Homo sapiens: one gene and its partners. The protein of the gene in region 4 purifies or fractionates together with the protein of the main gene of each other region. This does not show direct contact. Each region holds a gene or a part of one and is shown on either strand. Other genes may lie near its edges.

Region 1 (3,500 bases), on a different chromosome or scaffold from region 4:
CAACAAAATTCAAGTCATAAGGAAGCTCGCACAGTGACCCATATAAATCTCCCAGCTGAGCCACCAGCTTTAACATATTCATATTCACCTAAACATGAAGAACGAGGGGTTCAGACAGGCCCAGATGGGTCTCTTTCAGGACCCTCCCTCCCGTTGATGCAGCGTTAGGACTCCGTTTAGGCGCAGAGCCACTTCCCATTAAAACTGCATGTGTTAGCAATTACTGCAAAATCCACAGGTGGCGGTTAATATAAATGGAACTTGAGCTCTGTCCATCAGGGAAGCGCCAAGACCAGGGCCCCCTCCAGCGAACGCACGGCCTATGATGTGAGCTTTGAGTAGCTGGGGGGAGAGAACCGTCTTCGCAGGTACTTGAGGACATAGAGGGGGAGGCAGCTGACCAGAGTGATGACGGAGACTTTCCACAAGAATGACAAGGTGGCGATGAAGTACACATCTGCAAGGAAAGGGGAAGACGGCAGTGAGCAGGCAGGAATATTCCGGAAGGTGCATGGGGTCCAGAAACAGGCGTCACAACTATCAAAGGGAAAGTCATCTCCCGTCACAAACCCACAGCCTCCTGGCATTGGCCCTCTTTCTCCATGGACTGTAAGGGAAGGTACCATGGCTAAGAGCACACAGCGCCGCAGCTTGATTTTCCTCGCTCTCTCTTCTGTAGCTTCCTGACAGTGAAATGCTACTTTTAACACCCAGGAGAAGAAAACTATGGGGGCCACCAGATGCAGTGGCTCATGCCTTAATCCCAGCACTCTGGGAGGCCAAGGCGGGCAGAAGAATTGAACCCAGGAGTTTGAGACCAGCTTGGGCAACACAGCAAAACCCTGTCTCTACAAAAAATACAAAAACTAGCCAGGCATGGTGGTACATGCCTATAGTCCCAGCTGTTCAGGAGGCTGAGGTGGGAGGATCATCTGAGCCCGGGGAGCTTGAGACTGCAGTGAGCCAACATTGCACCACCGCACTCCACCCTGGGCAACAGAATAAGACACTGTCTCAAAAAAAAGAGAAAAAAAGAAGGAAAGAAAATTACAGGGGAAGAAAACTCAGAGATGCTTTTGATTTGGTGTTGTCTAACAGTTGGAGAGTCTTTCTAAGTCCCGGCCACTGGCGAGCAGAAAATGACATTCAAATGCACCCTCTGCTTCCAGTGATGGTCGCAGAAAGCCACAGGATGAGTCTGGGTCATGGTGCAAAGTGTTCAGACCCCCTTGTCAGAGAAAGGCTTAAGCTGACCCTCAGGGACTCTGATGGAAGGTGGGGGGGGCGGGCGTACTGCCTTTCCTGCTGCAGGATTATAAACCCGGTTATGAGGTTTTCTTAAGAGAGGAGTGACAGTTTGTGGCTTTCAATATAGCAGAAGCCAGAATAAGCCCCTTCTCCACTTTCTGAGCACAGGATGCTGAAATGCAGCTGCCACTGAGGCAGCACCTACTAAGTGCCAGGCCCAAGGCTCAACTCACCCTGTGGTTTTCCTACACCTCTGACCCGGTCCTGTGGTGTGTCCCTATCACAAACAAGCTGAGCTTCCTGAGCAGGGGCCACATCTCTGTGACCACCTCAGGCCCAAGCCTTTGAGCACATACTAGGTCTCACAAAACGCTTTCTAGAGACTAGTGACAAGGGTGAAACTGCTTTAAAACTCCACTGTTCACAGGGATGCTCCTTTAGTTCCTGGAGCGCACAGTAAATGCTCACAAATCCTTTCTAGAAACTGGGGCTGCAACTGTGAAACCTTTACTTTTCAGGGGATGTTTCTTTTACCTTTACTAAAACCTTCCTAAGGAGCTTTGGAAGCTGGCAAAAGAGCCGCGATCAAAGATGCTTCCAGGGTAAGGTCGAGTTTCTCTGCCTTTTTGTTGTTATTGCCCCTTAAGGAACATTTTTAGACTTTTCTTCTTCTCCTAATTGACCACCTCCATGACATGTTAATGTCACAGGTATACTGTGTATCTGTTTATAATATTATATATACATCTCCTTTATACGTAAAAGGTTAGGGTTTGTTCACACCCCACCAAAGACCACTGTTTGTTCCCCAGGCGGTGGGGTCCACACCACCCCCACTGAGAAGGCCTGAGGTAAAGGAGCAAGGGATGGGCCATTGCTAGAGAGCCTGGGCCCTGCAGGTTTCCCACGGAGGATGGGGCGTGAGGGGGTTGTCATTAACTGAAAGTTTCCCCCAGAGAGAGTCTATCCTGCAATCCTGAACACACATGAGCTTCTTAGCAGAGAAGCAGCCTCCGGGCCCTGCTCCCCCAGCTGATAAAGGAGAAACAGTATCACTCTTGAGGGTTTTTTGTTTGAATAACACAGACAGAAAATTAAATGCTCCTACTGAGGAGGAAAGAGGTGTAAAGAGGACTGTCTGCTAAACCAGCTAGACTTTCAGGATGACCCCTGGCCCTGAGGTTCCAAAGCCATAGCGGCTTGAGTTTGCCCCGTGCGGGGGAAACCAAGATTAGAGTTCAGAATCTATCCACAGCACAACACAGAAAATGCTGGATCATCTGAACCGTGCCCGTGTTGCAAGTTCTAGTTGAACTAGAAACAGGTTTCTAGACAGGAATTAAAGCCCGTGTCAGCACCCGATGGGGTCCGTAGCATAGCATGGGGTCATCTTGGTGGCCCTGCAGGGACTTGTGGCTCAATCAATTGGGAAGAAATTAACTGATATGGCAAAGCAAGTGAGGTCAGCATGGAAGAGTGATGAAACCAGGCTTGTCCATCTAGAGACAGTGGCTGACGCTGGACAAGCCCAAGAGTACCTGGAATCACTACTGAGGTCAGAGAAATCTGCCACCACCCCACATTAGGATGGTGCTGACACTCCCCCATCTCTACATTCCCATAACATTTTTTATTATTTATTTATTTATTTATTTATTTAGAAATGGAGTCTTACTCTGTCGCCCAGGCTAGAGTGCAGTGGCGTGATCTCAGCTCACTGCAACCTTCGCCTCCCGGGTTCAGGCGATTCTTCTGCCTCAGCCACCCAAGTAGCTGGGACTACAGGTGTGTGCCACCACGCCCTGCTGATTTTTGTATTTTTAGTAGAGATGGGGTTTCACCATGTTGACCAGACCGGTCTCAAACTCCTGACCTCGTGATCCACCCGCCTCTGCCTCCCAAAATGCTGGGATTACAGGTGTGAGCCATTGTGCCCGGCCTCCATAACATTTTTTATTTGGGGTGTGCCTGGGCGTCTAGCACCTCACCCCATTTTTCTTTCTTGGTAACTTTGATCACATCTGATATTCCTGTGCTCACACTCACTTAATGTGTGTTTATCGTGTGTTCCCAACGAGAAGGGCAGCTCCCTGGCGAGCCCGTCCACCTCATCTGCCACCATAATCCTGGCACACGGCAGGTGCTCCCACGTCTACGGAACTGGCGAGTACCTTCAGCACTTGGTTTGCTGTGAGGAGCAGCAGATTGTATTCTGAGATCCCTGGAGTCCCTCAGGAGCTCTATCAGGACAC
Region 2 (3,500 bases), on a different chromosome or scaffold from region 4:
TTCCACCAATAACACTATTACTGCTGCTATTACTATTGCCACCATTTACTGAACATTTGCTATGTGCCAAGAATTCTGCTAAACACTTTACATATAAATAATATGGTCTCTCCCTTTTATTCCTTTCCTTCTATAATCTATTCACCATGCAGCCTTCTGAAAGATCTTCAAAAATATGATATCAATTTTCCCTGCTTAAAATCCTCCACTGGCTTCCCATTGTTCTTAGAATAAAATACAAACACCTTATCATGGCTTTCCATGATCTGACACCCACATCCACCACCCAACACTGGCTCATATATACCCAATACCATGGCCTTCTGGCCGCTCCACATGATCTGTGGCATACACGGGGTCTCTTCCCAACTTCCCAGCTTACACTCATTGGTGTTTTGGCGTAGACTGCTCTTCCTCAGGCTTCTGCATGGCTGGTTCCTTCTCATGAGTCAAGTCTCAGCTCATATATTGCCTCCTCCCACAGACCCTCCCTCACCACCCCATCTACAGCAATCCCCTATCAATTGCTTTCATAGCACTCCAATTTGTTTCCCTGTCATTTATCAATGATAAATTATCACTCACTCAAATTACTTTACTCACTTGTTTACTTGTTTATTGTCTGCCTCCACTAGGATGTAAACTACCCAAAGCAAAGAGCCTTGTCAGACTTGTTCATGGCAATGTTTCAAGCACCTAGAAACTAACCTTCCACTTCCAAAGCCAACCATTACCTCCTAAATGAAAAGAAAAATTTAACCATTTATCTGATGGTATTATTCACAGTTGTGTTTTATTCCTGTCTCAAAAACAGAAGCATTCCACTTATTCACCTTTTCAGTCTAAATAGCAAGCAGATTTTAGGGTTGTTTTTTTTTTAAAAAATCCAAATCCCTTCAAAATGACACAAGATGATACAATTTTGATCAAGAAATAAAACTTGTTAAAGATTGGGTTTAGTGTCTCTTTTTTTTTTTTTTTTTAACAACTTACCTCTTTCTCTCTTTCATAGTCCTCTTCGTCATACTCTTCATCTTCATTTTGCACTGGTAGTGCCACACTGCCAAAGTCTAATGACATGGTCCTCCTGTGGGAAGGGAAAGATGTTTGGTTTCTGGACACCACATAAAATCTCCCCAGGACAAACTACATAAGAGATGCCATACATACACAAAGTGAAAAGACAGAAACAGACTGGGAGAAAATATGTATAACTCAGTTATGGCCAATAAAAATAATGGTGATTCACCGAAAATAGCTATATGACAGCAATTCATGGAAAAGAAAACATGCAAATAGGTAATAAAGCTATGAATAGACCTTTCTAGTGGTCTGAAGAGTATAAAACAGTAAGATTTTTGCCGACATGAAAAATAAGATGACAATAATAATAAACTAGAAATGTGCCAAATGTAAAAATCTTAAGCTCAAACAAAACTTCAAATGTGATATATTAAACATGGCACAGGCAGTACCCTATTGCTTCATTTTTTTTTAATATCAGAAATCCAAATATCATGCTTTACAAGAAGAAGGCCCCTAAATCATGAGTGAATGACTACTACCCAGAAACCATTTACAATTCAGTCAATGCCATAGAGTGCACAACAAAATATAAGTCTTAAATGTCCTCCTCTTAAGCTTGATAAAATCAGGTTCTGGCAATATACTCGGGAAAAACAGAAGTGAAGGCTGTGAAGCTCCACCACTGTGGACTTCCAATTCCAAAAGCAACAGCAAGAGTTCCCTGGGGAGCAGTGACTGCTGCGGCAGAAGCAGCAGCAGGAAATGGGTTTTCAACTACTTACATTCAAAAAAGCTGCTGCTGATTTAACTTGTACTTAGGGATCCTGACACTATACATAAACTCCTCAGAACTTCAAAGCTCTGAACAATCACAACAAAAAAGTAGGCAGGTGTCATCAATTACCTGGCCTAACACTGCCCTCCATTCAGTCCACTGTTGTTCATGCCAATGAAACGCACTTGGATGTGAGCCTGAGCCACAACTCATTCACTACACCTTTCAAGCTCTAAAATGTCATTAAATTGGAAGTAAAATCAGAAGCATGGAGACCCAGCAATCCAAATGCATTTTACCATAGAGAACTTAGCTCCCTCGTCTTAACAGATACGAACTATATCACAAACTTTTGTGGAAGCCAATAGCTCTAGAGCAGACAATATCCCATTTCATCAGATCTAAGATGTCTTTGATTCTATGATGCAGTTCCATTTGTAGCAGTAGGAACGAGATGTAGCCAATCAAATTATGACATAACATTAATTTTAGGACGCAGTCTATGTTGTAGATATTAAAGTGTGAAAAGAAAATATGCAAGCTAGAATAGATGAATATGGTATTAAAGATTAACATACATATGAACTTCAGTGGTAAAAATCCCCCTATGACAAGTTTTTGTTTTTCAAAGACTGAGTTATGTTTCTTGGCCAACCTCTAATTTGCAGTCTACCTTCTAATCCCTTCCTCTCTGGTCCCTACACCCAACCCGTCCCTTTAAACTCATATCAACTCAGACTATACCTCAACTTAAAACCCTCCAGCCTCTGCTTCTCAGACCACACCTATTCCTTTCTACCCTTGTGACAGGGCTAAACGGGGGAAGAGACATGCATATCGAGGAAAATAAATCTATCTATAAGAATCCTTTTGTATGTCAACATAAGATGAAGATATGAATATGATAAAAAGCCTGTAACATGAAATGGTGAGGGAAAAACACACAATCTCATGTCTCTAGATTTTTTTCCACTATGCAAATAGACTTAATATTCTACAGAACACTATATATATTGAAAATACTAGCCCAATTAAATCCTATGTCCTTAAAAGAGATGCCTGTAGTCCCAGCTACTCGGGAGGCTGAGGAAGGAGAAGGGCGTGAACCCGGGAAGCGGAGCTTGCAGTGAGCCGAGATTGCGCCACTGCAGTCCGCAGTCCGGCCTGGGCGACAGAGCGAGACTCCGTCTCAAAAAAAAAAAAAAAAAAGAGATGAAATTAAGCTGGACCTTAAAGAAATTCCTGAATCCTCCAGGCAGAAAAAATCCTTTCTGTTTCTGAATTCTGTGTCTTCTACCTTTCTTTCATTCAAATATAAATACAAGACGAAATATGGAATTTGGGTTACTTTCTCCTTCATTAAGTTAGAGAAGAGAGGTTTGTTCCCATCCTTTATTAACCTGCCATCAACTGATGTTGATTATTGAAAAAGAACATTAAGATTTATAAGAGCCTATTGCTAAAAATGTAGCTACTAATATTTTAAATAGACAGCTACTTTTTCTCAGATAGAGAATACTTAGGGTTTTGTTTTTAAAGAGAATGTAAAATATCAAAGTATATATCTTTAATGTTATTTTAAATTCAAAACATGTCATTAAAGAAGACATCTAAAAATACCTGAAAAGACCAAAATCTCCCCCACTGAAGAAGGTATAAGTTTTCCTTATCAGAACTATAAACTATAAAAGACTTTAAG
Region 3 (3,500 bases), on a different chromosome or scaffold from region 4:
ATTCTCAGCAGAGCACTTAGCACCAACTATTATTTTTCCTTGTTAAATTAATTACTTTTTCCCAGCAGTAGACTGTAAGAGCTCCATGTGAGCAGGTATTTTGTTTGTCTTGTTTGCTTTAGTTTCAGGGCCTAGAGTAGTATCTGGATACAGCGAAGGCACTCATTAAGTATTTGTTAGTTAACCAATTAATTATTAATATTTCGTAGTCACACCTTGAAGACCTCAACCTAGGAGATCTTTATCAAAAGAACCTTGATCTGCTGGCAGATTTGTCAAACTCCTGTCCAGGCTTTTGACAGATTTGGCAAATGCCGCTTTTCTCTTTTCAAAATTACATTAGTAGTCCTTGTAAAACTGTGTCTAACATTTTATTGTAACCATATTTGGATTTAATTTTATAAATTACGTTTGGAAAGAGGACAAGAGACTCTTTGTAAATAAGCCTGTAATTTTTACTGGTGACAGCTTTTGTCACCTAGAATCAATGTGCTTATTCTTTTTGAGATTGCTGAAATGAGCTTTGTAAATATTTTTGTTGTAATATCATTTTATGGTATATTCTTCAAATTATATTGCTTTATCCATGGTGAATTCCTTCTGGAAATGGAGTAGGGGAGCACCTTGGATCTTTTCTTTAAACCCAAGTACCCAGGTTTTTTTGTTCTGTGTTTTTTCTATTTTCACACCAAAGTTAAACCTTTACAGTATTAGTTTTACATATAGACAGTCTTGCATTGTAGATGTTGTAAGGCATTGTCTCTACATATAAAATTCAGACTTGGAATATTTGTAGGAGATGTTAATAACACACAACAGAGGATCGACTTCTGGGCATGTTGTTTTCATAATCATTCGTCAAGCTCTCATGCTTAGCCTTGTTTTAGACACTGTACCAGAATTAGAGGGAAAAAACATAATCAGCTTACATTACAGGATTTACACATTGATGTGGTTCAGTCAAAATGCAAATAGTATTGACAGATATTCAGGGGCAAAACACAGGGGCAGGATGAATTTAAAAAGCAAGGGGAAGGAAAGAAGAAAGAGGAGGGAGAAAAATGACTATGTTATTAGTCATTGCTCTACACTTGAAGGCTGTAACAGATGGACACTTAGATAACCTTCATGGTCTGGTTTAATTTACTGCATATAATTTCCACAGTTCTTTCAGATGATTAAATGAGTGGTTCTTGACAACAATTACGAACATTTAAAGGTGGAAATTTATGCATATTTCCCTAAATTGCATGTCAGGTAGTTCCTGCTATAATTTTGCTAAATGTCCATGAATCTCTTGAAAAATACAACTCATAAATGTGGAAGGCCTATACATAACTTCCATTTCCTCCCTCAGATTCAATAATAATATATCATTTTGTGGCACAAATCTTTTTTTCTTTTTTTCTTTTTCTTTTTTTTTTTTTTTTTTTGAGACAGAGTTTTGCTCTTGTCCCCCAGGCTGGAGTGCAGTGGCGCAATCTTGGCACACTGCAACCTCCGCCTCCTGAGTTGAAGCGATTCTCCTGCCTCAGCCTCCTAAGTAGCTGGGACTACAGGTGCATGCCACCATGCCTGGCTAATTTTTTGTATTTTTAGTAGAGGGGGGTTTCACCACGTTAGGCAGGATGGTCTTGATCTCCTGTCCTCATGATCCGCCTGCCTCCGCCTCCCAAAGTGCTAGGATTTACAGGTGTGAGCCACGGAGCCCGGCCCAGCACAAGTCTTTTATCTGTTGTTAATCTGATGTTATTTAGTGGAACACTTCAGATGCATTCATAGAATTATACATTTTACTAAATATATCACAGCTTGAAATATAGTTTCCCCATTTTTATCAGCTTTCATAGAATTCTTAATTGATTTTTAAATGGCTAATATTGCTTATAAAAAGTAGTTGATCAAGCTCTTAAATTCCTATTTCTGAGTTCCTTGTTCTAGTTCACACTAGACCAGAGGTCAGCAAACTTTTTTCATATAAATCCAGATAATAAATATTTTAGGTTGTGTGGGTCCAGTCATCACCGTCATAACTGCTGTTGCAGTGTAAAAGCAGTCATAGAAAATAAATGTGTAAACGAATGAGTATGGCTGTGTTCCAATAAAATTTTATTTATGGACAACAATATTTGAATTTTATGTAATTTTCACGTCACAAAATAGTCTTATTTTGATTGTTTTTCAACTTTCACAGTGGGTTGAATTTGGCCTGTGAACCGCAGTTTGCAAACGCTGCCCCAAACTCAAAGTCACATCGTGAATTGTATGTCACGTGTCTTCAGGAGAAGAAATTTGAAACAAATCCAGAGAGAATTGTGTTTTACCTTAGTTACTCCGTTACTTAGTAGTTATCAGCTATGTATTAGACCAGTCACATATCTGTTAAAATCAGATATTTGATTCTAAAATATCTCAAGATTAGTTCAGAAACCTTGAAGGTAAATAAATGAAGGACCAGGAAAAGACTTCAGCTTAAAAGTATCAGGTTTTTAACATTTTTGTTACAAATTGGATTTGTTTTCACTCACTTGGATTTTTATCTGCTTACTTTGAAACAGTTCATCAGGTGAAATCACTCTAGAATTATTAGGTCAGCTTCTTTTATTTTCATTTTTCTTCAGAGGCCACACTTCTGCGGAAACAACATGCCCAGGAGGAAAGATGCTTTATATTTCAGTTGTGTTACATATAGGTCAGACATTACTGTTTTGAACTCCAAATAGTATTCTCACTTTATAGTTGTATTTGCATTTTTATTATATTATTAATACATATTGCTTGAAACAAGCATGGTTTTTGGTTGTCAATCCTTTTGTTAAAATATAACTTTATTTATTGTTATTATTTTGAGACAGAGTCTCACTCTGTCACCAAGGCTATAGTGCAGTGGCATGATCTTGGCCTACTGCACCCTCTGCCTCCCAGACTCAAGCGATTCTCGTGCCTCAGCCTCCTGAGTAGCTGGGATTACAGCCATGCACCACCAAGCCCAGCTAATTTTTGTGTTTTTAATAGAGATGGAATTTCGCCATGTTGACCAGACTGGCCTCAAACTCCTGGCCTCATGTGATCTGCCCGCCTTGGCCTCCCAAAGTGCTGGGATTACAGGTGTGAGTCACCGCACCCGGCAAATGTAACTTTACTTTGAAGACTTTTGTCTTAATGGGATTAGAACTGCATTACCATTTAAAGATGAGTTTCTGCTGGTTCCCATAGAAGTGTCAACATTTTTCTACGCAAATTTTTTCTTTTTTTAATTTGAGACGGAGTTTTGCTCTTACTGCCCAGGCTGGAGTGCAATGGCGCAATCTCGGCTCACTGCAACCTCCGCCTCCCAGGTTCAAGCAGATTCTTCTGCCTCAGCCTCCGGAGTAGCTGGGATTACAGGCATGCGCCACCATGCCCGGCTAATTTTGCATTTTTAGTAGAGACGAGGTTTCTCCACGTTGGTGAAGCTGGTCTCGAACTCCCAACCTCAGGTGATCCACCGCCTCGGACTC
Region 4 (3,072 bases):
CACCTCTGCACATCTGCAGACTGCGGCAGCTCCTGTCCCTCCTCCTCCAGAGACCTCAGTGACTCTTGGTACTCTCCCTTTCCCAGGTTCTCTTCCTCTTCCAGATTCCTTTGACTTTCCTTGTCTACCTCCTCTGGAGATCTCAAATTCTCCAGGTTCCATGCTCCCAGAGATCTCAATGATTCCTGATTCTCCTCTTCCAGGAGTCTGAATGTCTCTTGGTTCACTTCCACAGACTCCAGTGGTTCTTGAATTTCCTTTTCTAGAGGATTCATTGCCCCCTGATTTATTTCTTCTGGAGTCCACAGTGGTGCTTGAGTTTCTGGAGATTTCAGTGTTTCCAGGTTCTCTTGTCCCGCAGACTTCAGTGATTCTAGGATCTCTGTTTCTAAAGATTTTACTGCCTCTACGCTCTCTTCTTTGAGTGACTTTAAGAACTCTTGATTCTCATTTTCAAGAGGTCTAGCTATCTCCTGGTCAAGAGACTTCAGTGGTTCTAGATCCACTTTTTCTGGGGGTCTTAATGTCATCTGATCCTGTTCCCCTAGAGACCTCCGTCGCTGTTGAGTCTCTTTTTCAAGAGTTCTCAATGTCTCTTGGTCCTGTTCTTCTAAAGACCTCAGTGATTTGTGATTCTCTGTTTCTAGAGGTCTCACAATACTCTGGTCCTCTTCTTCTAGAGTCTTCAGTGGCTCCTGGTTCTCTTTTTCTAGAGATCTAAAGGCCTCTTTGTTCTCATCTTCAAGAGACCTCAGGGGTTCCTGATTCTCCTTTGTCAGAGGTCTCAGTGCCTCCTCATCCCCTACTTCTGGAGATCTCAGTGGCTCTTGATTCTCCTTTTCCAGAGCTGTCAATGACTCTAAGTTCTCTTGCAGAGAACTTACTAATTCTTGATTTTCCGTTCCTGGAAATAAAAATGTCTCTAGATTACCTTCAAGAGATTTCATTAGTTCTTGATTCTCCTTTTGCAGGGATTGCAATGTCTGTGTGTCCTCTTTTCCTGTAGGCTTAAGTTGGCCTACAGCCTCTTTTTCTAGAGGTCTCACTACCTCCACATCCTTTAATAGCTCTTTATTTTCCTTTTCTAGACTTTTTAGTGTTTCTAAGTCTTCTTCTAAAGACCTCGGACATTCTTGATTCTCCCTTTCTAGTGTCTCATGGCTCTGGTTTTCCAGAGTCTTCAGTGACTCTTGAATCTCCTCTCCCAGAGACTTCAGGGTTTCTTTTTCCAAAGGAACCTGGGAGTCCTGGATTTCCTTCCTGTTTAGATCCTCTTCTTCCCATATTTCCTGCTGCAAGCTGCTTACCACTTTGCCCTCTATGGCTGTTTCTTTCTCTACCAACCCCCAGATTTGCCCTTCACCTTCCCCTCGGCATATGCTGAACACTCTAGACCCACCGGATTCTCCATCCTTAGCCTCTAAACTGGAGTGGTCAGGGCTGAGGGGTGGTGCCAAGGAGGCATGGTCCTCTGGGGACTGGCCTGTACTGGCCTCTTGCCGCTGGCCCCCAGGCTCCTCTGGTCCAGGCAGGACGCTGGCAGGAATGGCCACCCTGGCTTCAGCCCGCAGGGGCTCTGGAGCCTGTTTCCTCCCACCCTGTGTCTGGAGCAGAGAGAGAGGAGCATCCTGGGCTCTGATCTCTGCATCTACAGCAGGAGAGGGTGCCTGAGGTGTGGGGGGGATGGGGGTGCTGGCCAAGGTAGGGGTACGGGCCTGGAGGAATTCTTGGTTCTTAAGAAAGGCTGGCACAGGTGTCTCAAGGGTAGCAGGCAAGGGTGAGGGGAGGGAAGTTGGGCTCAGGACTGGGAGCAAAGATCCAAGACGCCGGCCCTCTGGGGTCCTAGGGAATTGCAGCTCCAGCTTGGGGTCTGGAAAGGCAGAGGGGGAAGAAACAGCATCAGTATATCACTGGCAATGAGGGGAGCCACAGAGCAGCCACCGCTGGCAAGAGTATCCATGCGCCTGCCCCTGGCGCCCATGGCTGGGCTGAGAGCATGCTCACTGACACTGGAGGCCACGGACTTGAAATTTAGATTGGTGCCTCTCGGGAAAGATAGGTCTGGGTATGAAGAGCAAAGCAGGGTAGTTTCTGGGGGAACTTGGCCCCTCCTCTTACCCTGAAAGCTGAGGGAAGTCTTGGAGCCACCGCCAGGTGTTTGCAGCCGGGAGTTCTCAGCCTCCAGGAGGGTCCTGGAGAGGACAGAGGGAAAGTGGGGTCAGCCCTCTGCCCCCAGGCCTGCAGGCAGCAAGCCAGCTGGGGACAACTCAGGCTGAGCTTGCACCATCCAGGCCCTGCAGGCTTCCTCTTCATTTGACACTGTCACACAAAAGCCACACTCAGGGTGAAATCACACAGTCACATACCCACAGACATCACACACTTGGTCACACAAAGTCACACTGTATTTGGGATACACAGCAGAGCTCAGACATAGAAGCAGATTCCCACACAGTCGGACATTGCCCTACACACACCCACACAAGGCTTAGGCTAGCCTCCTCCTCCCACCCCAGGCCAATGACCTCATCCTCTGTGTGGGGGACCGATTCTCATGCTAATTGCTGCCATTGTCCAAGCCACCATCTGGAGGGTCTGAGAAGGAGAGGATTCTGGGGAAGTGGGAATTCTCAGGCCGTTCCCATGGGATGGGCTCCCTCCTCCTTCCCCGGTGGCCCCCAGAGCTAGCGACAGACAAAAGCAAATGAATTCAGCTCCCCCTCTCCAAATCCTTTTCATGCCTCAAAAAATAGCAGTTAAATTCCTCGGGGCCCACCAGACCCTTCCCCTTGGTGGCTTCACTGGGGGTCAGGGCCCTCATCTCAGGATCTCTAAGCACTCTGGATCCCAAGCTCTTCGGGGCACAGAGGTCTTTGTGTCCAGGCCCCTTCCTCAGCGCCCCTTGAACCAAAGAGGGGAGCAGGGACCAATCAATTCAATAACTTAGGATGAGCAGCTGCTCCTCTCTGCTTTGCTCCATGATCTCTGAGTCTGGTTAGCACTCGCTGTAGCCTCACCTCTGTCCTTGCCAGTGCTGCGGCCTTCCTTCTGGGCTTCTCTTCCCTGGCGGTG
Region 5 (4,272 bases), on a different chromosome or scaffold from region 4:
CCTTGGTCCCCAGCGGCAGCGGGGCGCGTGGGAGCGCGCTCGGAGCCCGTAGACCCGGACCACCGGGCGGGGCGGGTGAGGGGACAATGGCGGCGCCAGGCCCTAATTGGGGACAGAGGCACCCGCGCGCGGCCATTGTGCGGCCCGGAGCCCCGGAGCCCCCGCGCCCGGCGCCCCGCCATTGGCCGCTGAGCCTGACGTCATGGGGGCTGCAAACGCTGGGCGGGCGGCCGAGGAAAGGGTTATCCGCCTGGTTGCGGGGCTGCCGTGGGGAGCTGCAGCCGCGCGGAAGGGCGGAAAACCCCCAAAGCAGCAGAATTTCTGGAGCAGGGTCGTGGCAGCCCCTCTCCAGCTCCACACCCGGCTCGCAGCGACGCCGCTGCGCCGCACACCCGCCCGGGGGGAGAGAGGCGGGGGCGGGTAGGCCCCTCCAGCGTGCACGGGGTCAGCCGGGGTGACCGAGCGGCGGGAGCCACTGCGGCACAGGGCGCGCGCTGCGCTTTCGCTGCCTCAGCACTTGCTCCTTCGGCTCCCGCCTCCCCCGCCCGCCCCCGCAGATCCCGCGCCCCAGGCCCCGAGCGAGGCAGGCGGGACTGGGGTCCTCCCTACGTTCCTCCCCACAAGACCCCGAGTCCGGGGCGCTTGGGTCCCAGGCCTGGCTCCATTTCTCCCCACACGCCCGACAATGCTGCTGGCTGCCGGGCCGCGGTTCCCCGAGCCGCGCGGGGGAATTCCCCACTCGCGCAGGCTGAGGCATCCCCGGGACCCCTCCCAGGAGACCCAGGCCGGGGCTCGGCCCAGCGCAGCCATTTCCGCCGGCCTCTCCCCCACCTCCCTCCCCCTCCCCCAGCTCCTGGGCTTTAAAAGCCAGAGGCTGGGCCGGGCCGCAGGCAGAGGCGGCTGCGGGCTCTGGAGGCCGGGCCCAGGAGCAGTCCGAGCGCCGAGCCCCGCCCCCGGAGCCCCTGTCCCTCCCTCCCTCCCTCCCTCGGCCCGCCCTCCCTGCGCACCCCTCCCCCCAGGACCCCCGCCCCCCGCCCGCCGCCGCCGCCGCCGCCGCCGCCGCCGTCGCCACTGCCGCTCGCTCCGGCTGCAGAACAATAAAGCAAGCCTCCCAGAGACCCCCGCCGAGGACCCCTGCCCGGCGGCCAAACCCCCGCGGACCGCCCCTCTCCGCCCGCGCCGGTTGAGCGCGCCCGGGCGCTGGCCGCGGTGCTGCCCAGGCCGGCGCTGGCCGCGGTGCTGAAGCTGCCGGCGCTGCCGCTGCCACCGCGTTCTCCGGGCCCGGCGCCGCCGCCCCCGGGGGCATGGGGGGCCGCTGACTGAGGCTCCGCCGCGGCGGCGGGGGGGGGGAGGGGAAGGGGGCCACCGAGCCGGGCCAGCCCTGCACCCACTCGCAGCCTCCAGGCCCGGGACGGAGCCGCTCCCCCCCTCTCCGCCCCCCCAGCCTCCTCCCCCGCCTGTCCAGGGGCGGCACTGCGGGCTGGGAAGCCGGGACCAGAGGAGGGAAGGAAGGAAGAGGAGAGGAGAGAAGAGGAGAGAAGGAAGGAAGGATTGAAGGAAGGAAGGAAGGATTGAAGGAAGGAGGAAGAAGAGGGATCCGGAGGGGCAACGGAGGAGACGCAGGGCAGCAAGGAGAGAGGACACCACTCGCGCGGCAGCATCCAAAGGCCAGAGTGGGGACCCGCGCTGCCTCCGCCGCTCCTCGGATGGTGACGGGGCCCTGCCGCCGCAGCCCCCCCAAGCCCCGGCTCCGCAGGCCCACAGCGCCGGAGCCCCGCAGGAATCATGCCCAGGTCCTTCCTGGTCAAGAAGGTCAAACTTGACGCGTTCTCTTCGGCCGACCTGGAGAGCGCCTACGGACGCGCCCGCAGCGACCTCGGCGCGCCACTGCACGATAAAGGTGAGCGCTGGTCTGAGACCAGGGCGCGGGGCCTGGGGCTTTGCTGGAAGCGGTGGAGGGCCAGAGTGTGGGGGCGGAGGGCAGGGCCCGGGGAAACAGACTGAAGGGAACCAGAAACGGCAAGAGTCTGTGGCTGGAGCCTGGACGGTAGAGGGGAGGAAGGGGAACACAGAGGCCAAGGCTGGGCAGGGAGAGTGTCGACGTTGGACAGAGGGTGGGGAAGAGGATCAGGAACTGAGGTACCCAAACGCACACATGGACCCACATCCTGACCCATGCTGGGACAGACACAGCCGCATGGGCGCTGCCATGACGGGACCCAGCCATGCCGGCACACACAGACCTACACTCAAGAGACCAGGGCCGCCTCGCCACCCTCTCCTCTTCCTTGACTGCACCAGGACACCTGCTAGGGTTAGCTGGGGAATGCAGGGAGCTCCAGGGAGTAGGCAGGGGGTCCAACAGGGCCGCCCACCTGTCAGAGCAGAGGGCCAGCAGAGGCAGCAGCAGTCTCTTCCCTGAAGCCTGGGTCAGGGAGAGGAAGCAGGGAGGAGGCTGTGAGCAAGGGACGCCCAAGGTGTGGGAGGCAGGGGGAGGCTCTTTGTGTAAGGGTGCCCAAGTTCAAGGACAACTGTCAGCATGCAGGAGAGGGGGACAGGAGTGCCAGCAGCATGGGGTGGCAGAGCAAGTGTGACCTGCAGGAGTGTGAGCCTGTGTGGGTCCATGTGACTGTGTGTGGCCATGTGACCGTGTGCGCTTGTGTGTGACCCTGTGTGTGTGTGTGCTTGCCTGTGTGCCACTACATGGGACCATGTGACTCTGAGGCCGCTGTGCACCATGTGACTTGAGAGTGTGTCCGGGGTGACTGCATGTGTGACCCTGCGTGAGTGAGGAGGTGGTGAGTTCGGCACATCAGTGTGCAGCCCACCCTGTGAGGGCACACAAGGGCTGATCATGCTGGGAGACTGGGTGTAGCCCTGAAGGAGGCAGAGCGTCGCGAGGGGCGTGCATTTGTGACTTTGAGGTTATGAGATCCATCTTGTGCCTGGGGAGCAACTGCAGCTACCGGTATAAGTGATGCTGCCCTCCTGCAGCTCGTCCCTGTGAAAGTGGACGCCCTGGCCCTCTCTGCACAGTTCAGGGGCTTGGGAAGGCCCTGAAAGGGGTTAGGGTGTGAGCAGGAGAGGGCAATGTTGAACAGGGTAGGACCCAAGGGTGCAGGATGGTGAGAGGGAGTTCGGAGGAGAAGCAGAGTGCATGGAGGAGCAGGGAGGGCAGGGTCAAGTCCAGTGGGTGGCCGGAGAGCTGAGGGAGGTGCTGGTGAGGCCGGAGGGAACTGGGGGAGGGAGACGTCTTCAGGGCTTGTTGGAGGAACCAGAAGGCCAGAGGGGGTCAACATCAAAATGGAGCGCACGTTCTGCAGGCCAGAGGGAGAGCCGGCCAGGACCCCGGAGAGGTGGGACAGACGGGGTCCCTGGGCCGGCAGTCCTGGCTTTGTGCGCCGCGGGTCTGCAGTGTGTTGCATAATCAGGGAAAACTGCTGAAGTGGGGAGAACCCGAGGGGGAGGGGAGGGTGGGTGGGGGAGGAGGGAGAGGGAAGCGCCGCCCCTCCCCCCTGACCTTGAGGCTCCGCGGAAGGGGGGCAGCCGCGCCCGAAGACGCGCCTCTCTCCTCCTCTCTGCGAGGGTGGGGCGGCGGGGGCGGAGCGTGGCCCGGCCCTGTCTCATCCTCTCCTCCCCTCTCTTCCCCTCCCTGCTGTCTCCATCCTCCCTGCCCGGCGGTCCCTCGGCCTCCTCTCCTTTGTCCTCCTCCCTGTTCGCCTCTCTCCCGGACCCGGGTCTCCCGGTCCGCGTCTGCTGTCTCCCGCCCCCCCATCCCCCGTGTGTGTCCTGCCGCCGCCCCATTCCCTTCCCGCTGTCCGTCCGCCTCCGCCCGCAGGGTACCTCAGCGACTACGTGGGGCCCTCGTCCGTCTACGATGGCGACGCCGAGGCTGCGCTGCTCAAAGGGCCGTCGCCGGAGCCCATGTACGCAGCAGCTGTGCGTGGAGAGCTGGGTCCGGCGGCTGCAGGGTCTGCGCCGCCGCCCACCCCGCGCCCGGAGCTGGCCACCGCTGCGGGCGGCTACATCAACGGCGACGCGGCCGTCAGCGAGGGCTACGCGGCGGACGCCTTCTTCATCACCGACGGGCGCTCGCGGCGTAAGGCTTCCAATGCCGGCGCTGCCGCCGCTCCCTCCACAGCCTCGGCGGCGGCCCCCGACGGCGACGCCGGAGGCGGGGGCGGGGCGGGCGGGCGCAGCTTGGGATCCGGGCCGGGGGGCCGGGGCGGCACGCGCGCGGGGGCAGGCACCGAGGCGCGCGCGGGGCCAGGG
Region 6 (3,500 bases), on a different chromosome or scaffold from region 4:
GGGAGACTGAGGCAGTGTGTGTGGAAGGACAGTCGGGAGGGCATCTTGACGGGGGCACTGGAGGAGGCATCTGGACGGGGGCACTGGGGGACACTGGGGCTTAGTGAGGGGCATCAGGTCCTGGGTGTCTGGGAACAGTAGAACATCTTGGGCTATCAGCAACAGAGCGGGGGGTGGGGAAGAGGGTGAGGAGGCGGAGCAGTAGGGAGAGAAGAGTGAAGAGGGAGAGGAGGGGGGAGGAGGGAGAGGAGGGGGGAGGAGGGAGAGGAGGGGGGAGGAGGGAGAGGAGGGGGGAGGAGGGAGAGAAGGGGGGAGGAGGGGGAAAAAGGGGGAGGAGGCGGAGCAGTAGGGAGAGAAGAGTGAAGAGGGAGAGGAGGGGGGAGGAGGGAGAGGAGGGGGGAGGAGGAAGAGAAGGGGGGAGGAGGGGGAAAAAGGGGGAGGAGGCGGACCATTAGGGAGAGAAGAGTGAAGAGGGAGAGGAGGGGGGAGGAGGGGGAGGATAGAGAGGAGAAGGAAGGGAGGATGGGAAGGAAAGTGAAAGGGAGAAGAGGGAGAAGGGGAGGAGAGGGGAGGAGGCGGGAGGAGGGGAGACGGGGAGGGGGAGGGGGGAGGAGGGGAGAGGGGAGAGGGGAGAGGAACGAGGAGCGGGGAGGAGGAGGCCGGGTGGGAGGCGATGGGAGCTGTGGGAGGGTTCTGGGAGGGGAGGTGCACACTCAGGCGTGCGGGCAGAGGGCAGCCCCACCTGAAGCAGCTCCGGTGGTAAAGCCTCCCGTCGGCCAGGTGCCGCTGTACCAGGTGCACGTGCTTGCCGCAGACCCCGCAGGTGCTGCTGACCAAGCTGCCCGCCAATGCCTGGTCCTGGGGAAGATGCCAGCACCTCTCTGAGCAGCCGTCCACCCAGCCCTCCCTCCTGGTGGCAGCCCACAGGTGGCCGGAAGAGCCCATCTTACAGATGGAGAACTGGCCAGGAGAGGAGCCGCCAGCAGGGCTGCGGTCGGGGTCACACCCAGGTGGGTGGCAGCCCCAGTCCAGGGCCTCTAGCCCAGCCCTGGGGAGAGAGCTGAGGCCCGATGCTAGTGGTCCTTCGGTGGCTGGGGGCCAGGGGACAGATTCCAGGCCTCCTCCTGCCCCATTAGGGGCATGGATCCCATCCAATTCCCACCATCCCGGGAGCCTGGAGTGGCAGTCCAGGCATAGCAGGGGCTGCCAACCACCAGATATTTGCCCACCGCCTTCCACCCCAACTCCGCTTCTGAGAAGTGGGGGTGCCTGGGTTCACTCTGCAGAGCCGGCCTTGGGTACAGGGCATAGCCCAGCAACCCTTCTCTCCCCGGGAGAGAGGTATCCTGGGCCCATCTAGGTTCAAGCTCTGTCCCACCTTTGTGCTCTCCCATCTGTACAAAGTGGGATCACAACCCCTGGCTTGATGGAGCCCTGGAGAGCCCGGTCCTGGCGGCTCTTGCTAAGGCTGAGCCCTGGACTGGGGGAGCCGCACCCCACTCTGGGTCCCGTGGCTTAGGGGCCGCACGTAGTCCCACAAGCCCCTTCTGCACCCCCCGGTGGAAAACCCAGAGAACCAGGGGGAGGGTGGGGTGGGAGCTTACAGTCTTGGGGGGCGGGCCCCCTGCACCCTCATTCCTCCTCTGGACCACAGGGTTTGTCTGGGCTGGAGATAGTGGAGGCTTCCGGGCTGGGGCGGGCGAGGGCAGCTTGGCCGCCTGGACTGGAGCCTTCTTCCCTGACGGCTCCTCCTCAGAGTCCTCCGAGGCCCTCTTCACGCCTGCCATGCCCCCAACTGGAGGAATCAAGCAGGGATCGGGAGGGTCCCAGGCCTGGCTCTGAAAGGGTCTAGTCCCTCCAGAGGTCCCAGTGCCCAGCACAGGCCTTGGTGCCCGGGGGGGACCTGGGGGCCCAGGGCTGGGGAGAGGTAACCCTGAGGGCACTTTTTCTGGCACAGCCCCGGGTCGGTCCCCACTCCTTCCCTCCCCACTCAGAGCCCCAGCTGGAGTCAGGGAAAAGGGACTTTTCTGTTTCTCCAGCAGGCAGGGCAGGCCCTGTGCCCGGAATGGTTCTGGGGATTTCTAAACCCTAGAAGAGGAATGTGGGGGTGGGGGGGTGGGGAGCTGAGCTCTACACACACAAAGGCCGGGCCTGTCCCTCCCCTGCCCAGTTCTATCCGGGGGCCCCACCCTGCCAGGCCAGCCTGGCTTCCATAGGGTCCAAAATCAGGACAGATGAAGGTAGGCCCAGGAGCTGCCCCTGGTCAGCCAAGCCACCCCAGTGGGCACAGAAGCTCAGGGGTCCAGATGGGCAAACTGAGGCCCATGAGGGGCAGGGCGGCAGGAGCTGCTGGTGCACCTGGCACCTTGGGGAAGCAGCGGGGGCAGCTCTCCTGCAGCAGGATGAGGGCCCCGGTCCCTCTTGGTGAAGACACAGCCTGGGGCTTTGCATGGGGCCGGGGTTGGGGATGGGGCGCCCACCAAGGCCTCTTGCTGCTTCACAGCCAGTGCACAGCCCCGGTGCCCATGCCAGGGGCCATTCTTGGGGGGGGGGCTGGGCATGGACCCCAAAAAGTCCACAGGCCTGGGAGCCAGGCCAAGGATGGGGGGCCTGGTCCTGCCTGGCTCGGCGGGCGCGGCAGGGACTCACTGGGGGAGCGGCCGTGGAAGTAGTTGTAATACTGGGACACGTAGGTCAAGATGCTCAGCCGGTCAGGCACCTTCAAGGCCACCATGTCCTCGGCATCCAGCAAGGCTGGGATGCCCAAGTGCTCCTCGGCCACGCGGAAGGCCTGCGAAAGGTGGGAGGGGGTCAGCGGGGCAGCTGGGAGCCCCCTCCTTCTCCACCAGGCCGCAGCTCACCTCGACTCAAAGACACAGTCTTGGAGCCCAAAGAGGCGTGGGTTGGAGGCCGGAGCTGAGTTCTGCTCGCGTGGCCTCCCGGCCTCAGCTTACCCATCATTGCAGCGGGGATCACGGTCCCATCTGCACAGGACTGAGGTCACCAGGCCGGTGGGCGCTCAAGGCCCCGTCCAGGTGAAACCTCAGGGGATCCTACCCTTCACCGGGAGAATCCCAGGCCCCACCCAACCCAGACTTACGCAGTCTTGAAACAGCTCCCTCCAGAGGCAGGGCTGACATTGCTGAGCCCTCCCCGGGGGCCAGAAGGGACACACAGGTCGCCATGTCAGGGCTCCCAGGCAACAGGTGAGGGCCGCTAGAGGCTGAGACAGGGACTCGACAGCCCACGCCGTCCAGCCCAGCAGCCGCCGGCCAGGCATGGCTGTGAGCATGGGAAGTGTGGCCGGCACACTTGAGGAACTGGACTTGTTTATTTATTTATTTTTATTTATTATTATGTTTTTGGAGACAGAGTCTCACTCTGTTGTCCAGGCTGGAGCGCAGCGTCAGCTCACTGCAACCTCCACCTTCCGGATTCAAGCAATTCTCCTGCCTCAGCCTCCTGAATAGCTGGGATTACAGGTGCGCACCACCACGCCC
Region 7 (4,291 bases), on a different chromosome or scaffold from region 4:
TTGTGTGTTCGGTGTTTTAGATATATTAATTCCTTTAATCTCCTACCACCTTAGTATGTGAGTAGTATTATCCAAGGTGACAGCGAGTAGATGGTAAAGCTAGATTATAATTATGATCTGATTCTAAGGCCAATACTTCACCAGAAGGCTCTATCTTGAAGTCTGACACGTTTGAGATTAGTTAAAACTAGACTACCAATTTTGGTTTTTTCTTTGTTTTTTGAGACAGAGTCTCACTATCACCCAGGCAGGAGTGCAGTGGCGATATCTTGGCTCACTGCAACCTCTGCCTCCTGGGTTTAAGGGATTCTCCTGCCTCAGCCTTCGGAGTAGCTGGGACTACAGGCGTAAGCCACCACACCCGGCTAATTTTTGTATTTTTAGTAGAGATGGGGTTTCACCATGTTGGCCAGCCTGGTCTCGAACTCCTGACCGCAGGTGATCCGCCTGCCTCGTCCTCCCAAAGTGTTGGGATTACAGGCGTGAGCCAACGCGCCCAGCCTAGACTAGCAATTTCTCAAAGGGTGGTCTGCAGACTCCTGCATCAGAATCACTGGCAGTGTGTGTTAAAAATTCAGATTTCCTGACGGTGTCCATGACCGAAGGAATCAACACCTTCGGCCGGGCGTGGTGGCTCACGCCTGTAATCCCAGCACTTTGGGAGGCCGAGGTGGGCGGAACACCTGAGGTCAGGAGTTCGAGACCAGCCTGGCCAACATGGTGAAACTCCATCTCTACTAAAAATACAAAAATTAGCCAGGCGTGGTGGCGGTCGTCTGTAATCCCAGCTACTCGGGAGGCTGAGGCAGGAGAATCCCTTGAACCTGGGAGGCGGAGGTTGCAGTGAGCCGAGATAGTGCCACTGCACACCAGCCTGGACGGCAGAGCAAGACTCCATCTCAAAAAAAAAAAAAGCACCTCCAAGTGATTCTGTTGCAGGGGATCTGTGGATGATGCAGATTTTTTTTTTGTTTTTAATTTTTTATAGAGAAAGGGTCTCCCTATGTTCCCCAGACTAGTCTCGAACTCCCGGGCTCAAGCGATCCTCCCACTTCGGCCTCCCAAAGTGCCGGGATTACTGGCATGAACCACCACACCTGGCCCAGAATTTCGGATTGTTCTTATGCAGACGAAAGCATTAGGACTCATATCTAGGTTACCGGAATTGTTGAAAGCCAACAGCACACGGCATTAGCCAACTTCAGCCCTGCTCAACAGCCTCTATCCAAATCAGCTCCCGGAGCCGCTTAGCAGCCTGCAGCCGCTGAACAGAACTGAGCACGCGCAATATTTAATCCCCACGGGCGCTGGGTGGGGCTCCCTAGGACCCCGCCCCCTACCAACCTGCGGAGCCAGGGGGCGGGGCTCTCCAAAGTAATTCCGGCTTCTCCCGGCAGCGGCCCAAATCCCCGCCCCCAGCTCTCGGACCAATCAAACGGCAGATTGCTGAAACAAAGGACCAATGCCCAGGGCGGTCCTTAATTCCTCCCTGCAGTTTGAAACTGTCAGGTTGCCGTCTAGGTAGCGGTTGTGCTTGCTGAGGCTGCACTTGCTGACACTGCAGCTGCGACGCGGCTAAGAGGCGCAGAGCGAGGAGTCGGGATTTGGTCGCGAGCGGCGACGGTGGGTAGCAGCGCTCCGGGCAGATCCTGCGTCCCTGCATCCCTGGCGAAAGTAGTGGAGGGAGATTTAAAGTTCCTTGGCGCGTGTTTCCTCCCCCTGGGCTCTTCCCCAGACCGCGAGTGATTCAGCTGTTGTGCCGGAAGGTCCCAAAGTTTCCCCTCCGAGGCGTGCAGGAAGAGGAAGTGAGCAGGAGTGAGGGATGCTGAGCGATTACTGTCATCAGAGGTTCCGGTCACTTAAAACGTTGAGAAAAAATAACCATGTATAAAGCTCTGTTGTGCTTAAGTAAGATTTTTCTTAAAACAGGCTGGGTCGGAAGGTGATGGAAGAAAACTTATGGCCTTTTGCTTACTGCAATGGCTTTTCTCCTCTGCTTCTAGTCCCTGCTTTGGGGAGGGGCTGGCGCGCCCCTTTCCTTGAGTGCAGCTAGGCCTGGTGAAAGGCACAGGCGACATCACCCTGCTGCTAGTTTGCATGTTAATTCGCTCTTCCTTTGCCTCTTGGGGGTTCCATTTGAATTCCCAGACCCCTGTTTTGCTGTCAGCCAGATAATTACCAAGATGTTATTTTATGTTTCTGGCAACAGAGAAGCACACAAAAGTTTTGATCTTGTTTTCTGATACCTTGGATTAGAGACTACTGAAAATGTAGTGAACTAATGTGCGTCCGCCACCCATTAAAGCAGTTTTCATTTTTCTCCTTTGTTTCTGAACCTAGAAACAGTAAGGAAAATGCTACTGTTCTAGAGTTTCAAATAACTCATACCTTGTTGACATAAAGCAGGGCAGATGGAAGATAGCATATTTTCCAAGAGTGCGGTGGGTTTTTTTGTGTCTGCAGTGTGTCCATATTAAGAAACAATTTTTGAGATCTGACCATACTTACTAGCTCATTTTTAAATAATCAGCACCCCCCCCCCCCCACCCCTGTTACCTGCCTGGTCTCAAATCCTGAAGGAAGAAGTGAATAAAAATATAAATGGACCAAGTTATCACAGTGGTAGATTTGAAGTCAGTGAAGCAGCCATTCCTTGCTGCAGATACATGCACTTATTTTATCCTCCCTAATTGGCTTAACTAAAGACAGTCATGCTGAGATTTAGTTTACTTAACATGTGTATGCACAGTGATACTCACTGGAAAAAGTTGAACTTTCCTTTCCACAATTTAGTTCCAGCCTGTGTTTCCATTCTATTTTTGCACTTTTCCCTGTATCTTCCTTTTCTATTTCAATTTCCTCATCTCTCATTTATTTTTCAGCCCACTGTGACTAAGACCTGTAATTGTTTTACTTTCCAGTGAAATTGTTCAAGCAAACGTCTCAGCAACCTCCTAATCTCCAAATTCTATCCAATCCTCATGGTTCTTTGGCATCTAATTCTATTTTCTTCTCAAAGTTGTGATATTGCTTCCATAGTTCTAATGTTCTGACTTCCTTTGCTGACTCCTCTTCTTTGCTGACTGTTCTTCTCTTGCCCTTTAGATGTTAGTGGTTCTGGCTTTAACCCTCTTCTCATTCACAGTCGTAGTCCTTAACTCTATTAGGGCTATGGTCCCCTCTGAACGCATATTTAAAGCGAAAGATCTTCTTTCTAGAAAAATACACATTCACATTTATGATAAAAATATTGCATACGAGTCGGGTATAGGGACCTGATATGGTTAGGTCTTGTGTCCCCACTCAAATCCCATCTTCAATTGTAATCTCCACATGTAGGGGAAGGGAAGTGATTGGATTATAAGGGCGATTTCCCCCGTGCTGTTCTCATGATAGTGAATTCTCACGAGATCTGATGGTTTTATAAATGGTAGTTTTTCCTGCACTCTCTCACATACTGTCTCACCTGCCGCCATCTAAGATGTGCCTGCTTCCCCTTCTACCATGATTTTAAGTTTCCTGAGGCCTCCCCAGACATGCGGAACTGTGAGTCAATAAAAATTCTTTTATTTATAAATTACCCAGTTTTGGGCAGTTCTTTTTTTTTTTTTTTTTTTTTGAGACGGAGTCTCACTCTGTCGCCCAGGCTGGAGTGCAGCGGCGCGATCTTGGCTCACTATGAGCTCCGCCTCCCGGGTTCACGCCATTCTCCTGCCTCAGCCTCCCAAGTAGCTGGGACTACAGGCGCCCACCACCACGCCAGGCTAATTTTTTGTATTTAGTGGAGACGGGGTTTCACCGTGTTAGCTAGTATGGTCTTGATCTCCTGACCTCGTAATCCTCCCACCTCAGCCTCCCAAAGTGCTGGGATTGCAGGCATGAGCCACCGTGCCCGGCCTGGGCAGTTCTTTATAGCAGTTTGAAAAACGTACTAATACAGGACCTCAGGATAAGAACTTTTTCTCACATTCCTTTTTTATAGGTGGTCTCATCCATTCCCTTTTTTCAGCAGTTCCCATTATGCCAGTGATTCCTCAAACTGGATCTCCAACTTATACCTCCAGTGCGGCGCTCCCACAATGCTTAACTCCAGGAAACACCATTCACAGTGTAGCCATTGTGAATGGCAGTTCTTGGAGTAGCGCACTACGTAGCCAGTGTGACCACAGACTGCATACTTGCAGCTTTACCCTAGTGCCTCAGAGGCATCCTCACACCCAGCTCATCTGATATGGCACTCATTGTCCTTCCTCCCAACCTGCTCATCTTCCTACCTTCCTTGCCTTGGTGA

Evidence for each region.
Region 1: the proteins of NES (region 4) and ATP9A purify together in Homo sapiens (affinity purification with mass spectrometry; one large-scale study listed by BioGRID and IntAct). This does not show direct contact.
Region 2: the proteins of NES (region 4) and CEP152 purify together in Homo sapiens (co-immunoprecipitation; one large-scale study listed by IntAct). This does not show direct contact.
Region 3: the proteins of NES (region 4) and CMSS1 purify together in Homo sapiens (affinity purification with mass spectrometry; one large-scale study listed by BioGRID and IntAct). This does not show direct contact.
Region 5: the proteins of NES (region 4) and SCRT1 purify together in Homo sapiens (affinity purification with mass spectrometry; one large-scale study listed by BioGRID and IntAct). This does not show direct contact.
Region 6: the proteins of NES (region 4) and MICALL2 purify together in Homo sapiens (affinity purification with mass spectrometry; one large-scale study listed by BioGRID and IntAct). This does not show direct contact.
Region 7: the proteins of NES (region 4) and POC5 purify together in Homo sapiens (co-immunoprecipitation; one large-scale study listed by IntAct). This does not show direct contact.

Annotation. Positions count from the first base shown.
Region 1 is NC_000020.11:51,600,891-51,604,390, forward strand, and holds part of ATP9A (probable phospholipid-transporting ATPase IIA), read right to left. Parts: intron 458-3,500; coding exon 321-457; 3' UTR 1-320. UniProt on the Homo sapiens protein: Plays a role in regulating membrane trafficking of cargo proteins, namely endosome to plasma membrane recycling, probably acting through RAB5 and RAB11 activation. Also involved in endosome to trans-Golgi network retrograde transport.
Region 2 is NC_000015.10:48,804,570-48,808,069, forward strand, and holds part of CEP152 (centrosomal protein of 152 kDa), read right to left. Parts: intron 1,088-3,500; 5' UTR 1,081-1,087; coding exon 994-1,080; intron 1-993. UniProt on the Homo sapiens protein: Necessary for centrosome duplication; the function also seems to involve CEP63, CDK5RAP2 and WDR62 through a stepwise assembled complex at the centrosome that recruits CDK2 required for centriole duplication.
Region 3 is NC_000003.12:99,824,362-99,827,861, forward strand, and holds part of CMSS1 (protein CMSS1), read left to right. Parts: intron 1-3,500.
Region 4 is NC_000001.11:156,671,336-156,674,407, forward strand, and holds part of NES (nestin), read right to left. Parts: intron 2,193-3,072; coding exon 2,119-2,192; intron 1,871-2,118; coding exon 1-1,870. UniProt on the Homo sapiens protein: Required for brain and eye development.
Region 5 is NC_000008.11:144,333,683-144,337,954, reverse strand, and holds the start of SCRT1 (transcriptional repressor scratch 1), read left to right. Parts: upstream 1-1,472; 5' UTR 1,473-1,785; coding exon 1,786-1,900; intron 1,901-2,763; exon of another isoform or gene 2,764-2,968; intron 2,969-3,838; coding exon 3,839-4,272. UniProt on the Homo sapiens protein: Transcriptional repressor that binds E-box motif CAGGTG. Can modulate the action of basic helix-loop-helix (bHLH) transcription factors, critical for neuronal differentiation.
Region 6 is NC_000007.14:1,445,971-1,449,470, forward strand, and holds part of MICALL2 (MICAL-like protein 2), read right to left. Parts: intron 2,792-3,500; coding exon 2,650-2,791; intron 1,796-2,649; coding exon 1,605-1,795; intron 859-1,604; coding exon 743-858; intron 1-742. UniProt on the Homo sapiens protein: Effector of small Rab GTPases which is involved in junctional complexes assembly through the regulation of cell adhesion molecules transport to the plasma membrane and actin cytoskeleton reorganization.
Region 7 is NC_000005.10:75,714,638-75,718,928, reverse strand, and holds the start of POC5 (centrosomal protein POC5), read left to right. Parts: upstream 1-1,491; 5' UTR 1,492-1,623; intron 1,624-4,291. UniProt on the Homo sapiens protein: Essential for the assembly of the distal half of centrioles, required for centriole elongation. Acts as a negative regulator of centriole elongation.